2 separate regions of the Homo sapiens genome follow, and region 2 is linked to region 1. Evidence: fine-mapped QTL for protein levels in blood plasma. A gene starts in region 1. The other region holds a variant in brackets. All regions are shown on one strand. Distances are from middle to middle.

The links. PIP is the posterior inclusion probability: the model's chance that the variant is causal. The UK Biobank Pharma Proteomics Project read protein levels with antibody pairs (Olink). The fine-mapping took linkage between variants from a reference panel, not from the people measured, so its PIPs are less certain.
Region 2: its variant is fine-mapped to the plasma level of the COL6A3 protein (UK Biobank, PIP above 0.99).

What each region holds. Positions count from the first base shown.
Region 1 is chr2:237,410,779-237,419,110 of GRCh38, reverse strand. COL6A3 (collagen type VI alpha 3 chain) reads left to right here and starts at 4,947. Exons shown (of 44, transcript NM_004369.4): 1 at 4,947-5,158.
Region 2 is chr2:237,319,312-237,327,643 of GRCh38, reverse strand. It overlaps COL6A3 (collagen type VI alpha 3 chain), which reads left to right. Exons shown (of 44, transcript NM_004369.4): 43 at 1,920-2,084; 44 at 2,830-3,626. The coding sequence ends at 2,870. Among named protein-coding and RNA genes, the nearest start is that of COL6A3, 91 kb to the left of the region's middle. RefSeq lists an enhancer at 1,937-3,136. The variant G/T (reference allele first, on the strand shown) is at 3,535.

The sequences.
Region 1 (8,332 bases):
GATTGGGCTTCTAATCCTTCTTGTCTTGAAACAGGCCTAGTTGCCTCAGTGGAGCATTTTACTTTAAGCTGATTTTGGAATGTCACATACCTCCTCTTCAATAAGAGGAAACTCCAGCCTCACTGCAACAAGCAAATCTATTAACATGATTGCAGATCCATCACTGGGAGCTGGTTGGGAGGGTGAGAAGAGTGGACTTGAGCTGGCCCTCCAGGAATATCTCCCAGGATATCCCAGCATAAACCCTCTGGTCTATTCTGGGAGGCAGGGAAACAGGAGCCTGCCCCGGAGAGACTGAACTTAGGAACACACTGCACAGCCGCAATCCAGGGTTTACAGGACAAAGATCGAGGCACCCTTCAGCAGCTGTCTGGATGCTGGGATGCGGGGTGTGGCAGATGCTGCTGCTGTGGCTGCGACTTCCCTTTGAGTCCTGGAGACTGTGATGGAACTCGGATGCTTAGTCTGTTACACAGTCTGCCACTGCCTCTTAACATTCAGGGAGCTGGAGTCTTCATATTGGCTTCTCTATGACTGTGTGTATGTTCAAGTTCCTTCTAGCAGAGCCTGAGACAGGGTGTTGTGCAAGCGATTACTGAGGGAGAGCTCCCAGGGGAAACCTAGAAGGAAGGCAGGAAGAAGGATGAGGGCAGGAGAAGAAGCCAGGCAAGGAGTGGGTTCTGAGAAGTCAGGCTGGTCCCATGGCAGGTGTTCTGCAGTGAGAATCCTCTTGCCAAGTTTTTCTGGCCCAGAGGCAATGGACTGGAGTGTCACATCCCACATCAGACATCACTGGCTGTGGGCCACCCCAAGGGAGATGGGCTATAACCCTGTACTAGTTATCAACTGCTGTGTAACAAATTGTCACAAAACTAGCAATTTACGACAACATGCATTTAGTATCTTGGGTCAGGAGTTCAGGCTTGGCTTCACTGGGTCCTCTGCTGGGGTCTCAGAGGCTGAAACCTCCGTTTGGGAGACTACATTTCTTTCTGAAACACGGAGTCTTTTCAAAGCTCACGTAGATGTTGGCAGAAGTCAGGCCCTTGTGGTTGTCGAGTTGGGGTTCCTGCTTCCTTGCTTGTTAGGAGCTGCTCTCAGCTCCCAGAGGCCCCCACATTTCCTTGCCATTGGCCCTCACAGGATGGCGGCTCACTTTGTCAAGGCCAGTGTCTTAGTCCATTTGGATGGTTGTAACAAAATGTCTTAAACTTGGTGGCTTAAACAACAAAAATTGATTTCTCATGTTTGGGAGTTTGAGAAGCCCAAGATCAAAGTGCCCGCAGATTCGGTGTCTGGAGAGGTCCTGCTTCCTAACTCGTGCACTGCACCTTCCCTCTGTATCCTCACATGGTGGGAGGATGGAGCAGTCTCTCCATATCCTCTTTTATAAGGCACTGATCCCATTCATCAAGGCTTCTCCTCTACGACCCAATAACCTCCCAAAGGCCCCATCTCCCAATACCATCACTTTGGGGGTTAGAATTTCAACATATGGATTTTTGGGGGACATGACATCCAGACCCCAGCAGCCAGCAAGATAATCTCTCCCTGCCGTTTCCTAAGACAGAGTCTTCTGTGATCCCTGGGTGACTTCCCACGACCCAACTGTAACCTAATCCAGGAAGGGACACCATTCATTTTTGTCGTGTTCAAAGGCTGGAATCAGGGCTCAGCTTCCATTTGCACGCAAGGGGGGTGGATTACGCAAGGGCTTGACTCCTGGGGGTCATCTTGGAATTCCACCCACCTCACACACCCCAATGTGTCCAGAAGAGACAGATCCCAGCATCCACGAACAGTCCTCCAGGAAAGGGCGTGGGTGTGAACCACTAACATTTGACTCTCATCTGAGGGGAGTCTTGCAGAGGCACCCATGGGACCTTCCACACTGTCCTTGCCCGCAGGAGAAAGGGCAGCCAAAGTCTCAGAAAATCGCCATCCCTCAGGCCACCTTCCAATCCCATAGCCGTGTATCTGGATGGGGAGGCCCCATCCCCATCAGGGCCACAGCTACAAGGGAGCTTGGAAAATGGAGTTCTGAACTTGCTAACTTGTGTAGTTAAGGACAAGATAAGGGAAGAAAATGGGAAGAGGTGCCAAGAGCCAGTTCAAGCCTGCAGTGAAGGGGAAACAGAATTGAGATATTCCGTGACTTATGAGGTGAACTGAGAGATTCAGTGACTTATGAGGTCCCACCGATGGCCGGGCCTAGATCCAGGACTCAGGACGTTTAGGGCAGCTCAAACTTTTGAGGTTGTTTTCCTCCTGGGATCAGGTAGCAGAGAGGAACTGGAAATGTAAGTGGGAATCCACATAGTGGTGATTAAGGAAGAAAGCTGCCATAGAACCCAAATTCTCTCTTGTTAGCACAAGGGAGGTTTACCATGAGTTTCTGGAAGTTTCTAGAGCCATGGGCAGTGCTGAAGAGGATCTGGATCATCAATGAGTAGGTGCAGCTAAATATTAAAGATTATGGTTTCCTACTGAATGGGAGCTTTTATTTCTTTAAATCATGTTCTAAATGATTTCTTGCCCTTGCTGTTTAAATATAGCCATCCATTGGTATCCATGGGGGACTGATTCCAGGAACCTCCATGGATACCCAAATCCACAGAGGCCCCAATCCCTGAAGGAAGGTGGTGTAGTATTTGCACATAACCTATGCACATCCTTCTGTGTACTTCAAGCCATCTCTAGATTACTTATAATACCTAATACAGTGTAAATGCCATGTAAACAGTTGTTATACTGTGTCATTTAGAGAATGATGACAAGGAAAAACATCTGTACATGTTCAGTATATATGCAATCATCTACTTTAAAAAGCATTTTTGAACCACAGTTGGTTAAATCCATGGATGCAGAACCCATGGATACGAGGTCGACTGTAATAGAAACTTTCAATACCAAGGAATGCATCTGCCTAGCGATTTTGCGAAAAAGAGTGTATTTGTATTTGAAAGAAACCGTGGAGTGGAAACACCTAAAACGTGCTTGTTCAGTTAACCTCAGTTTGCTGAGCTGCTTGGAGCATGGGGTTGTAATCAAAGATTGTCTTCTTCGCAGCAGACAATGTTCTGGGAGAAATAGTCCTCCTTAGTGCTGAAGTTGCAGACTCTAACCAAGGGGGTGGCAGCAAGTATCCCCGGTCTCTGTAGGGGCTTGAGTCAACGCCTGCACTGTGCAGAGAGGATGAGGGCAGAGAATTGGATGCCGCTGGAGGGGCGTGTTGTCCTTCTACATGTCATGCAGGCAGCGCGGTTCTATACTCGGAGCCTCTGCTCAGCGTGTCTTCACCTAAGAACCCCATAATTCAGGTTCCATCCTTGTTCCCTACTCCAGTGCTCTGCAAGTGAGCCCTTTGGTTTAGAGATGGGTTGGGCTTCTTTATGGGAGAGGAAGGGAGCCCTGGAGCTGCAGAGGGGAGCAGGCATTCTCTCTGGGGTGCTGTCTCCTTTCTTCCCTAAATTGGAGGGAGATAATCCATGGAAAGGAGTTAATGATTTCTTTGCTCTTCAAACTTGGTTTGGAAGGATCTCTCAGTCAAAAAGAACCTTTCGGATGTCTCTTGATATTTCACATTAATGGACTTTTCATAAGGACCACATGATGGGAGAGCAGTGAGAAGTTTGGGGATGGCCAAAGCTGGGTTGTCATTTGAGCTCTGTTACTAACCCAGACTGGACAATGACGATGTCACTTACTCTCTCGGAACTTCTTTTCTTTTCTTCTTTTCTTTTCTTTTTTTCTTTTTTCTCTTCTCTTCTCTTCTCTTCTCTTCTCTTCTCTTCTTTTCTTTTCATTTCTTTTCTTTCTTTCCTTTTTCTCTTTTTTGGAGTCTCACTCTGTTGCCCAGGCTAGAGTGCAGTGGCGCCATCTCGGCTCACTGCAACCTCTGCCTCCTGGGTTCAAGCAATTGTCCTGCCTCAGCCTCCCAAATAGCTGGGACTACAAGCGCCTGCCACCATGCCTGGCTAATTTTTATATTTTTAGTAGAGATTTAGTAGGGGTTTCACCATGTTGGCCAGGCTGGTCTCCAACTCCTGACCTTGTGATCTGCCTGCCTTAGCCTCCCGAAGTGCTGAGATTACAGGCATAAGCCACCGTGCCCAGCCTGTTTCTTTCATCTGTAAAATGGGACCACAATTTCACCTAATAAAAGAAGACATCTTTCTATTTAAAAGGGCTTAGGGTGTTGATGTTTGTGATAAAGGAGAGAATGTATATTGAAGTGTTTTGAAATGTGCAAAGCTTTCTAGAAACAGAAGTTCTTACTCAAGTATTTTCCCGAAGCTTTGGCAAGATAACCATTTTTATTACCCCGTCTGTGCCTAGAATGGGCCTATAAGCGCCACAATCAGAATCATTAGATATAGAAATTAAGAGAAATGTAGCCTCCTTTTTTTTGCCGGTGAACAGAGCTTTGGTTAACAGAAAACCAAGGCGATTTTAATTGCTGGTTTTTCTATTTGAAGGGGGAAGTTATTAGTAGAAGTCTCAATTCAGAAACTTCAAGAAGAAATGGGAGGGTGTGGTGAGGGTAAGCGGGGGACTGCATTTCCTGTTTTCCTTTCAGATGGTGTTGGAAAACATTGCAGGAAAACCATGGATACCCACGAAGAAATTCCAAAATTTATTCTTTTTGACGCCAAGGGCCCAGCCCAAAAGGTGACGAGTAGGAGTGGTCAATTTTTTTTTTTAAGAGTTGGGGCTTGCAGGAGTCCAGCTAAACGCTTGTAGGGTGAAGACAGAATTCAGAGGGTGACATCAGCCTGAGCGGGGGCCAGAAGAAACAGAGTGGAGGAGTCTGGTTTCATTTACAGTTTTGGGTCAGTTCTGCAGTGAGGAGGGGGAGAGGAGGGGTCCGGGAGGGAGGAGGAGGAGGAGGAGGAGCTGGAGGAAGCCCTGACTGGTATCCCTGGCCCCAGTCCAGTTTGGAGCTCAGTCTTCCACCAAAGGCCGTTCAGTTCTCCTGGGCTCCAGCCTCCTGCAAGGACTGCAAGAGTTTTCCTCCGCAGCTCTGAGTCTCCACTTTTTTGGTGGAGAAAGGCTGCAAAAAGAAAAAGAGACGCAGTGAGTGGGAAAAGTATGCATCCTATTCAAACCTAATTGAATCGAGGAGCCCAGGGACACACGCCTTCAGGTTTGCTCAGGGGTAAGTGTGATTTCTCTTCTGTTTTTCCAGGTTTGGGGCTAGAAGGAAATGCTCTTAACCTGAAGTGATCCTTTCTAGGTAGCGTTAGTGGCTCTTACGTTCATGCTGATCGCCAGTTTTCTGTACATGTTTTAGGTCTCTGGAAGATTCCGCTGATTTTTCTTTCTCACTTTATGGCAATGGGATTTCCTTAAATTGGTTAAGGTCATGATTGCCTAAGAGTGTGAGCACTTTTCCACCGCGTGTCTGTGGCTGCTACACGCGCCCTGTGCATTCCGGGCGGCAGTGTGTTTCGGCCCATGATTTATTTAAGTTACTGCCGCCTTCTAAAACCCATTCGGGATCCGCTTTGTTTGCAGAAGCGTCTTTGCTGAGGACTAGCATAGCTCCCTGCCGGGCGGCTCCGCTGGGAGATGTTCTCTGAGCTCTCTGGGTGGTGACACTAGGTCAGGGTGCAACAACCTGCATGGGTTTTCTGCCCAGGGCCGCCCATGGGAAGGTCCTGGTGGAGCACATTTGCTGCTTTCACAAGATTGGAGTAACTCTGGTGCTCAGGATCAGGGCCAAGTAAAGGGTCGCTCAGTCATTGCCGTCAAGCTTTCGTCTTTCCAGGAACCTGAAGTCTCTATTGGAGACTTTGTCCCTTGGGGTTGCTTAAAGGAGTTGCAGGGGTCAGAGGAGAAGAAGGAATTGGGCATTTGGGCAGCATGCTGAGTGTCTAAGGCAGGGCCCCTGGGGCTGCAGGGCCAGCCCATGCTGCACAGAGGTGAGGCCAGTGCCGAGCTGGGAGGCCCCGAGGGCTGTTCTCTGGCCCGGAGGATGCAGGGTGGGGCTCGGGCCCTCTCTTGCTGAGGATGGACACGTTCGCTGACAGTGGCCAGCCTGTTTGGGGAACCTGTTTCAAGGGGCCTACTATGTTGGATAATGAACGGGTATTGAAGTATGGGTGGGGTCACTGGGAGGGACTAGGGAGTGGTTAAAGAAAAATCTGCTTCCACAGGAAGCCCCAGGAGCCAGTTTCGAGGCCGGTGCAGACCCCAGGAGCAAACCCCTCTGAGCACAGGGGAGTCTGCTGTGCTGGATGGGGAGGCAGGGCTGTGGCCCCGGCTGACTGGCTTCTCTCCCCACATACAGCTCACCCCGGCGAGGACCACAGGGTGCTAGAGCTGCAGGGTGCTCAGAGCTCACGGGGATGGTGGATGCTCAACCTGGGATCCCCCAGCTCCCCAGGGTCCCATTCTTAATGCTGTAAAAAACAACCGAAATGGCTTTAAAATCAAAGTTACATTGCTCCTAAGCAAAACTATATTGAAAACTGAGTGGGTGGCCGTTGATGACATTACTGGGACTTCTGAGGTTTTTGTTGGGCTAAAGATAATGGAAGAGATTTTTGGTCAGAAGCCACTGATGCAGTAGTTTCCTGGTTTTCAAAATGAGCAACCAGGGGCTCTGAGATGCGGAATTCCTTGCCCAGGCCAGGGAGCGAGTGCCTGAGATGGCAGTGAAATCCTTCCCCATTGAAGGAGAGCAGACAAGCCAGTGACGGAGGATCCCAAATAACTCACATCTCGTTGGGAAAACTGCTTTGGGCTCACTAAGACTCTACCAATGAACCGAGAAAGAAGGGAGGTGGACCGTGGGGCGGGGGCATCGGTTCCGTGACCGGAATACCGGGGCTGGCCGCCCTGCTCAGGCCACCTCCTGGGGGTGGAGGGCGCTGAAGGAGGGGACCTGTATGCTCTTCTTTCTGAAGTGGGCTTGTAGCTGAGGATGAAAGCCTGGGTGGGGAGGCGTGGCTTTTACAAAGATCAGGATGTAGGAACAGCTGCCTGTCTGGACTTCTTTGTTTAGGGGGTTTCTTGCTACCCAGAGGTTTAGTTCTCTCCTTTCCTCACTCATGGTCGAGAGAAGCCAGGAAGCAGACACTGAGTGGAGCAGAGGGCTTGGGAAGGAATTCCATGTTGGGGTGAAGTGAGGCTGTCCTGGCTTTTCCTATCCAGGCATTGGAGGGTGTGGCTACAGCACCTTTCTGGGAGGTGGCTGGGGAAGCCTCTAGAATGTTAGCCCTTGGCCCCGCTCTTTCCCTGCTTGGCAGGGAGCGTGTTCCACCCCACTATAGTTGTGGCCCACAGGTGAGGGGACATGTGGCAAATGTCCAAACCTGGGGTCTGAATGATATTTTTGATACGAGGTAGGCACCTTTCTGAAAAATTGTCTTTACTTCACACTTCATTTTATTTCTAAAGCATTCAGGACTCAGCAAATTGCACTGACTTTATCATCAGTGCCTTTTGTGATTTCCTATCCTAGAACTTAATACGTCCCCGATGAGAAAGTAGGAAGAAGCTCCTCTCTTCAGTCGATTGTTGATTTATGGTTCCAATGAGGCTGCTCATCCTGACCTTAGTTTCAGGAACGGAACCCATAGACCTGGATGCCTAAAGCCAGCTTGAAACAAGACCGCCTTCTTTGGAAGCTTTGGAAGCTGGCAGTGACTTTTTGCCAGCGAGGTTTCATTTGTTTCCTTGCTCAGAGTGTTCAGACAACTGGATCAAGCGTAGTCTTCACCAGCGGTTGATATCACCTCCCACTTATATGTGAAATTCCATGTTTAGGACTTAAAATTCACCGGCAAGTCGTGAATACTATTGCGTGACACTTCCTTGCAGGCGCAGTAACAGCTTTAGCAAAAATTTTTATTTGAAAGTTCAGTTTTGTCACTGCTCTTTTTGGAAGAAGCTGAAAATCTGCTATCTCTTGGGGGAAGGATTGCAGGCGGTTTCCATCTGACAGGGATGTTGTGTACCAGGCAGCTTTTCCACCCTGACTTACGGGAGCAAACTTTTCATGGTGTCCTGGCTGCAGCAAGCAGGCAGTAAAAAACACATCACTGCTACATAAATAGCTGACGATTTGAGGAGGGACCTGACATTTAAAGAAAATCCTATTAGCTCTAGCTAAGAAAATGAAAGCCGCAAACCCTCCAAATTTTAAAGTGGGGGAGCTTTAAAGTTTCCTACTAATTCAGACAGCCATGAACTAGACAAGAATGGTTATCTTCATTCTCCCGTTTCTAGATACAGCTTCTCTGTTTCCACTGTAAAACTTCAGTGGAATTCAGTGTAAAAATTCAGTGCAAAGAAAGGACAATCCTATTCTTTAAATAAAACATGT
Region 2 (8,332 bases), 91 kb after region 1:
ACTAATATATTTCTCTTGGTTTTCCAAATATCTTCTTGTCCACAGTAACAGTGTCCTTATTTTCCACTAGTAAATCTTACAGGGTCTCAGTAGTGACTCTCACTGAAATAAGGGCAGAAAACACCAGTGCCGTGGTGTGGAACTGGAGGGCTAGGGTGGAGGGCCAAGGAAGCTGGAGAAGCCAATCAGACGGGGAGTGGAGTGTGCTGCTGTGAGGCCACTCATGGGCTGGGTGTCCGTGGCTCTGGGCAGACCTCTCGTGACTGGTTCAGCAGAGCCCAGGGGACTGGGAATTGAACAGCTAAACACAGATGGTCAGGACTGAAGTGCACTTGAAACAAATAAAATAGAGCAAATAGGGTCCATTGGCCAACGCTCTGGGAAGGAAGGAAGAATAGGGAGATCATTTGACGCCGGCCTCACGCTAACAGGGAAGCCACCAGTAAATGAGGAATAAATTTTGATGGTTAAATTACCTTGCCTTGTCAGTTCTCTCCAGGACCTTCCTTGACAGCCAGGCATTTTCCTTCAGTTATTGGCATATTTGAGAGAAAGAAGGTTGTTTTTGTAAATTGTCTTCATTTTATTCTGACTTCCTGGAGTCTTCAAAGGCTCTCGTGGGGACCACTGGCTTTCTGGGCCCTGAGAGCGTCTGCAACTAGGAGGTGTTGTAACTGTGGAGCCACCAGCCACCAGCCTGGAATTTGGGTGACAGCAGCAACCAGGAAATGTTTTAGACCAATTCTGAGCCTCAGTCCTGTGCACCTTTGAGTCTGGTCCATCGTGGGTGATCCAAGCTATGATTATCCACTGAAGACTTAGGTTTTCCTTGTCCTTTTTGGTATCTATCTGAAGCACAGATGCTCACCACCTCCGCAGCTGTGAGCAGCCTGCCTCGCTGGGGACAAAGGAGATGGAGAAGCATCTCTTTGTAGGGGAGAGCTGGATAATTCCAGCCTGTTAGCTACTCACAGGAACATGCAGAATTATTGGCTCCAGGGAGTTTTGGAGAAAGAAGGTTTACGTTTTCAAACTTACAGATAACAGTTGACATCAATGCTTCTCTTTCCCAGAACAATCTGGAGTTTGCCAGAAAACTCTGTAAACAGGAGTCGTGCTGTGTGTGAACTGTAAACTCTTCTCTCCAGGCGTCGAGGGGACCTTTGCTTTACTTTGCAGCTGGGCTACATCAGACGTGTGCATTGGAAACATAAACTTCCTTAACTGGGAAAAGAATGCTTCTCTGTCTTCAAAATAGTTCTGCTATGTGACATTTTTGCCATCATGAATTTTACATCAGTGCTAGCTCTTTGTTTTACGTGTTTCATTTGGCAGGTCACAAAGGCTCTTGGCTACCACACATACGTGCATACACACACACACACACACACACACACACTCATAAAGGATTTTCTTTTCTGCTTTACCTTTAATTTTCAGTCTACTTGGCTTGTAATGAAAGGTAGAGCCTTATTTTTGAACTATATCCCAACAGAATCGAATTTCCATTTTGCCAAGAATTATAAAACCCTGAGGTTTTAAAATTCAGTTTCTTTTCTGGGGATTTAACATGGAAGGACTTGGAGGGCAAATGGCCCAGTGATTGGAAAGGGGAAAAACAATTCATTTCATTTAAAATTATTCAATAACCATTGCCAGCATTTGGGATTCTGAGTGCTGTTTATGAAGCCCTTTCATTGATATAATTTCATCTATCTCTCACAAGGCTGTAAGCAATTCCTATGTCCATATGGCAGTGAGGAAATGGAGATTTGAGCAGGTTAAGGGAGTTTTCACCTGGAAGCTCTTCTTTTTTTTCCTTCTGCCACAGTAGGGTCATCAGACTGTCAGCCCCAGCACTGGGAGCCGAGTAACACGCATGTTCTCATTAATATCCTTTTCTCATGTTTTTATTAAAGATATATGCAAGTTGCCGAAAGACGAAGGAACTTGCAGGGATTTCATATTAAAATGGTACTATGATCCAAACACCAAAAGCTGTGCAAGATTCTGGTATGGAGGTTGTGGTGGAAACGAAAACAAATTTGGATCACAGAAAGAATGTGAAAAGGTTTGCGCTCCTGGTAAGTGATTCTTCCTTGTGTTTATGGCTTCTGCAAATAAGAGATTCAGGTCAATAAGTCACCTTGAAAAATATTAGAAGTGCAATGATTATGATACATGTGAAAAAGAAGATAAAGTGTATCCTCAGATAAGGAAGACGTTCAAATACAACCCATGAAATGTCTTTTTGAATTCCTATTTTGGGTTTCTAAAAACATATTGTCCCTTGTCATTCTTCAGAAATGTTACTAAGTTGCTGTTATTTGTAAAATATTGCACCAAAAATGATTCCTGGGAAGATAATATAATGAACAACTACAGATAACGCCAAAGATAAACAACCCCCACAAATTTATCTTTTAAATAGTTTTGCTTCCTATAAATAACAATGTTGTCACTGGGGCCATCCAGTATCTCCATTATATTGTGCAGTTCAACTGGTAATAAAATAAACACTTTGAACAGAGCCTGGGGTCAGTGCCAGAATGGGGAGAGTTCAGTTCGTATAAAGGCCTGGTAGATGGTGCAGGGCAAAAGAATGGGATCAGATTTCCCAGACATCCCTGGGCCCCGGGGCCCCAGGCCAAGAACGTCACAGAGGGCCTTTGATGGTACTGAGTAGAAAAGTGGGACAGGTGATGGAAACCAGAGGCTGCGGGACTGTGTCATGATAATGACAGTGCCCTTTTGGGTCAGTAATGTGGCTTTTCCTCTCTTCTCTCGGCTCCTCACCTCACCCCACCCACCCCCTCTCTCGACGCTCAGTGCTCGCCAAACCCGGAGTCATCAGTGTGATGGGAACCTAAGCGTGGGTGGCCAACATCATATACCTCTTGAAGAAGAAGGAGTCAGCCATCGCCAACTTGTCTCTGTAGAAGCTCCGGGTGTAGATTCCCTTGCACTGTATCATTTCATGCTTTGATTTACACTCGAACTCGGGAGGGAACATCCTGCTGCATGACCTATCAGTATGGTGCTAATGTGTCTGTGGACCCTCGCTCTCTGTCTCCAGGCAGTTCTCTCGAATACTTTGAATGTTGTGTAACAGTTAGCCACTGCTGGTGTTTATGTGAACATTCCTATCAATCCAAATTCCCTCTGGAGTTTCATGTTATGCCTGTTGCAGGCAAATGTAAAGTCTAGAAAATAATGCAAATGTCACGGCTACTCTATATACTTTTGCTTGGTTCATTTTTTTTCCCTTTTAGTTAAGCATGACTTTAGATGGGAAGCCTGTGTATCGTGGAGAAACAAGAGACCAACTTTTTCATTCCCTGCCCCCAATTTCCCAGACTAGATTTCAAGCTAATTTTCTTTTTCTGAAGCCTCTAACAAATGATCTAGTTCAGAAGGAAGCAAAATCCCTTAATCTATGTGCACCGTTGGGACCAATGCCTTAATTAAAGAATTTAAAAAAGTTGTAATAGAGAATATTTTTGGCATTCCTCTAATGTTGTGTGTTTTTTTTTT[G/T]TGTGTGCTGGAGGGAGGGGATTTAATTTTAATTTTAAAATGTTTAGGAAATTTATACAAAGAAACTTTTTAATAAAGTATATTGAAAGTTTCCTGGGTGTGACGTTCTTGGCAGTCTTGTTTCCATAGCAGCGATTGTCAGAATCACCCCTAGGCTGGGGAAACTGGGTTTGGTTCTGGCCCCATGGAGCTGTGCAACAGCCTTTCGTTTCCAGTGGAGGAGGCAAAAGAGCTTTATCAGCCAGTGTGCAAAGAGACCGGCTGGAGACAAGCATCCCCCGCTTTGTGGATTCAGCCCCACATGCTCCAGTGCTCCATGGCCGAGCGGAAGGTGTTCCTGCTGTTGGGTCCCGGCAGTGTTTCTGATTTTCAGAGTCAGGCTGGCTTCTATCTTTTCCTCTGACTCTTGGTTGGCCCTCAGAGCCTCAGCCTCCTCCTGTCTTCCTCTCCACAGTGATCCTTTCCCAGGGGGTTGATTTGCTTCCTCTCACAATGGCTGAGAGATTCAGTGTTGCCCCACGACCCCCAACCCCTTTTCTGGAGTCTCAAAGCACAAGGTCTTTCATTTTTTTGTTTTTCTTAAAGACTGTTTTTTTCTCTCTTCAGAAATAATACAAGAAACCAACAAATACATATTCAGGTGGCACTTGAGTTCCACTTACAAAGGAAACAACTTATTGGATAAAATACATATGTCCTGACAAGTGCTGAGGGTAGAATTACAGGAATCTTGGGTGTCAGCAGAAATGTTTTATGTAAAATCGGGATGAATTTGCCAGTTGGTCTATTGGGAAAGGAGAGAGGAGTGTGGCCCTCTTCAGAAGCGCCACTTAGTCCCCACAAGGTCGCCATGACCTCCTCCCCAGTCCTCTTCTATCTCGGCAGCTACCATGGGGTGCTCAGGTCAGTGTGCTCTGAGCTGTGACCCTTGGTGACCAACCCTGGGATCTGCCAGGCACCCAACACCAGCCTCTTGCAGGAACTTGCGGAGCAGAGAGCTGTGGGCCCAGCTCCCATAGCGGTGGGCTGAGTGCTCCACTTCCCAAGGGATCCCTGCCCCCGCCACCCCCATTGACTTGATCTGCTATGGACCTAAAATGAGCATCACAATCTGGTTTTACTTTTTGGGTTCCTCCGGAAGCAGCCCTTAGGACTAAGGATATGGGTGTGAGTAGTTTATTTGGGAGGTGAAGGAAGTCACTGAGTGGCTGAGAAGTGGGGAGTGAGACAAGCAAAGGGAGAGCACTGTTAAGAGGTGTATAGTCAGCGTCCACTGTGGGTGCCCAGAGCCCAATCCCTCGGGGAAACCCTGGGAGGTGCACCTGTGGCACTGCACCTCGTAGGCCAGCAGAGGGCTGAAGGAGTTTGGGTAGTCATACACCTGTTTCCACGGGTCACTGAGGCATTCATGCTCTGGTCCTCTTGGCTTGCAGGCACACTGGCAAAGGGGCCTTCTGTAGTGTAAGAAAATGTTCTTGGCAAAGACCTGCAGATACTCCCATGTGGAACTTGGGGGAGTAGTCAGGCCCAAGGTACAGGAGTAGGACACCAATATTTGTAACATACCTAGATGGTCTGCTCAAGGTGTGTTACAATAGACTGGGGCAGGGCCCATCACTAGGAGACTCACTTCCAAGGGCTCCAGAACCCTCTCTCCCTTTCCACCTCCTGTTGCCAGCATGCCCATCCCTGCCATTCTTGGTTCACTCTATCTATGCATTGCTTCTCTGTGTGTGTCCCTTGGCTGCTCAAGGTTGCTGGGACAATCACACCCACCATCTCACCTGACTCAGGAGAAGCAGGAAGTGATGTAAGTCCAGGTGAGTGGCTGGTTAAGCTGTGTGTGCTGCTAACTTAGGGTAAGGCAAGGTGCTCAGGTGGTGGATGGGCAGTTTCTCCCATTTATTCCCACAGAGCAAATAAAACAAAATCCTTTGTTACATTGTCTGTCCTAACTTAGGGTTCAGCAAAACATGATCTGAGCTGCAGGATTCCTGACCCCTTGACAGCTCGTGGATTTCTCTTCCCAAGACATTCTTCTGCCAGACTATGCCAAGGACTCTGTGTCCTTTCTTGAACCCTGACATGTCCCTGACCCTCATATCCACTCAGCTCTCTCTGGGGAAGCCTCCAGCCTGGCCCGTGGAAGGTGGCCTGCCAATAAAGAAAACCTGTTTTGGATTTTGTGACTAAGAAATAAACTTCTATTGAAGTAAGAGACTGAGGTCTTGGGCTGTTCTAGCAGCTGGTGTGACCGTAACGAACACAGCGCACCTTTATCCAGAAGCCTTTGTGGGTCAGGTGCTGTACTAGGTGTTTCACACACATCTTAGGTGGTGCCGTTCAGTAGCGGTCATTGTTCCAGTTTTAAAGATGATGAAACAGAGGGTCAGAGTGGTCCTTTTCACCCAGCTATGTTCTAATGGAGGATCTGGGCAAGTTATGGTGACCCAGAAGCCCTCTCAGAGTTCCAAGGTTGGCTCCTGTGGGACGCTCACTGCCATTCTCTAGATGTTTCTGGCTCTTTCTCTGGAAGTCAGATCTAAGCCATGTGTCTTTTCCCAGAACAAAGCATGCCCTCCACATGACCCTCCCCAAGACCTTCCGTCACTCTTTCTCAGACAGCAAGTCTCTATCCTTCTCCTTCCTTTCATTGTAGTCTTTTCCATCTCTTCTCATTATCCTGAGCTGCTCTGGCTTAGGAAAGAACTTGGAGAAGCTGGGGGCTCTGGCACGCATTGAGGGCTTGCGCAGAAGGTGGCCTGGGCTGAGTATGGCCTGCCTGGGCTCCAAGGCCGAGTCACGAGGACGTCTATTTGTGCTCAACTGTGAGCACATCTCAATCCTTTCAACAGCAGCTTTGCTGGATTTTTAAATACAAGTGCTTTATACTTTCATTCCCTCAACGATTTTCTGCATAATTAAAAAGAAATCACAGCACTTATGAATGGGTGCCAGGCTTTTTGTAGAAAGCCAATGTTTTGAACCCTCAAGAACCATTTTAAATTTCTTTCCCCATGGTGGTTCATTTTTAGGAGATGGTTCGTATTTTCCTGCCAAATTTCCATTGTTGTCAGATTTCCAGCTGGACCTAGCTGCTCTTCATGAGCCAGGCTCTCAGGGTTCCACCTATCTGGGTGTGGCTTCCGGAGAAGTTGGGGACTGCTGACACTGCCAGGCCAGGGGGCCCAGTCCAGAGGCTGCCCTCTGCCATACCCCTCCTCGGTTTAGTTTGGGTCTGAGCTTTGCCGCTGCCTGTGCCTCCCCTTCCCTGGGAGATGAATACTGATGGTGAGCTGCTGTAAGAGCCATGGGATTCCTGGGGTCTTCCTGCTTTCTTGGAATCATGCTCTCCAGCTTTGGGCCACCCCTCAGCATTCCTGAGATCCCATGCAGAGCCAGTTCAGAAATCCTTTTCCGTGGTATTCCCTAGTCTTCCACCCAACTTTATGGTGGGTATAAATCTGCTAAAGACCAAAACACCAAAGAAGTAGTATTTTGGAATCTAGTAGTCAAAGCTTGAAGGCATTTGGTCATGAGTGATGGGAAAAGGCCAGTGATTCAAGGGCCTCTGTGCATGATGGTGACACCACCCAAGTATCGCTCAACCTGGAAAACTGATATTGTTTTCCTGCCTATGTCAGATGTCTCTGTGAAAACCATGCTGCTGTTGCAAAAAGTCATCTAAGAGAAGGCATTTGGGCATCTGCAAAGGGAGCTAGCTATGCATGTTTGATTTCAAGAGACTAGTAAATTCCCAGCATTTACATGAATTTTATAAGAGATGTTAGAAACAGAAATAGCACAATAAAAAGAAATTGTCAGAACTTGTATATCTGGGAAAGAATATTTGTTTTGAAAGACCCCATTTAAAACAGTTACATTTGATAGGAGTTGTAGTTGAAGAAGCTGACTGGTCATTCATAAACCAGTCTTATGTTGAGTTCCCCGAAAGCAGATCCTGACCAAGTTTTGGCTGCAGTCATTTGTTTCGGAAGGTGTGTGGGAAGCACAAATGAGGCCACTGAGAAGCAAGACAAAGAAGTTGGCAAGTCAAGGGATGGTGCATTAACTAAAAGCATGTTACCCTTGAGAGCAACTGGGGCTCAGTCTCCCTGGAAACCCACTGAGAAAGTGGGGAGAATGCTACGAGGAACAGAAAGCTGGACGTTTATGGACTGACCCTCATCTCTCTTTGGTTGGAGGTTGTAGTAGTCACCATTATCTAGAGGGACAGGACTAATAGGATAGACATATATATGAAAGGGAGTTTATTAAGGAGTATTGACTTACACGATCACAAGATGAAGTCCCACAATAGGCCGTCTGCAAGCTGAGGAGCAAGGAAGCCAGTCTGAGTCCCAAAACCTCAAAAGTGGGGAAGCTGGCAGTGCAGTCTTCAGTGTGTGACCGAAGGCCCGAGAGCCCCTGGCAAACCATTGGTGTAAGTCCAAGAGTCCAAAAGCCGACGAACTTGGAGTCTGATGTATCAGGGCAGGAAGCATCCAGCACGGGAGAAAGACGAAGGCGGGAAGACTCAGCCAGTCTAGTCCTTCCACGTTTTTCTGCCTGCTTTTTTCTGGCTGCACTGGCATCAGATTAGATAGTGCCCAAACAGACTGAGGTGGGTCTGCCTCTCCCAGTCCACTGACTCAAATGTTAATCTCCCTTGGCAACACCCTCACAGACACACCCAGGAACAATACTTTGTATCCTTCAATCCGGTCAAGTTGACACTCACAGGGGTTGACCTGGGGGCGTTACACGCCAGCATTTTGAGGCTGCCCTGCACACACTG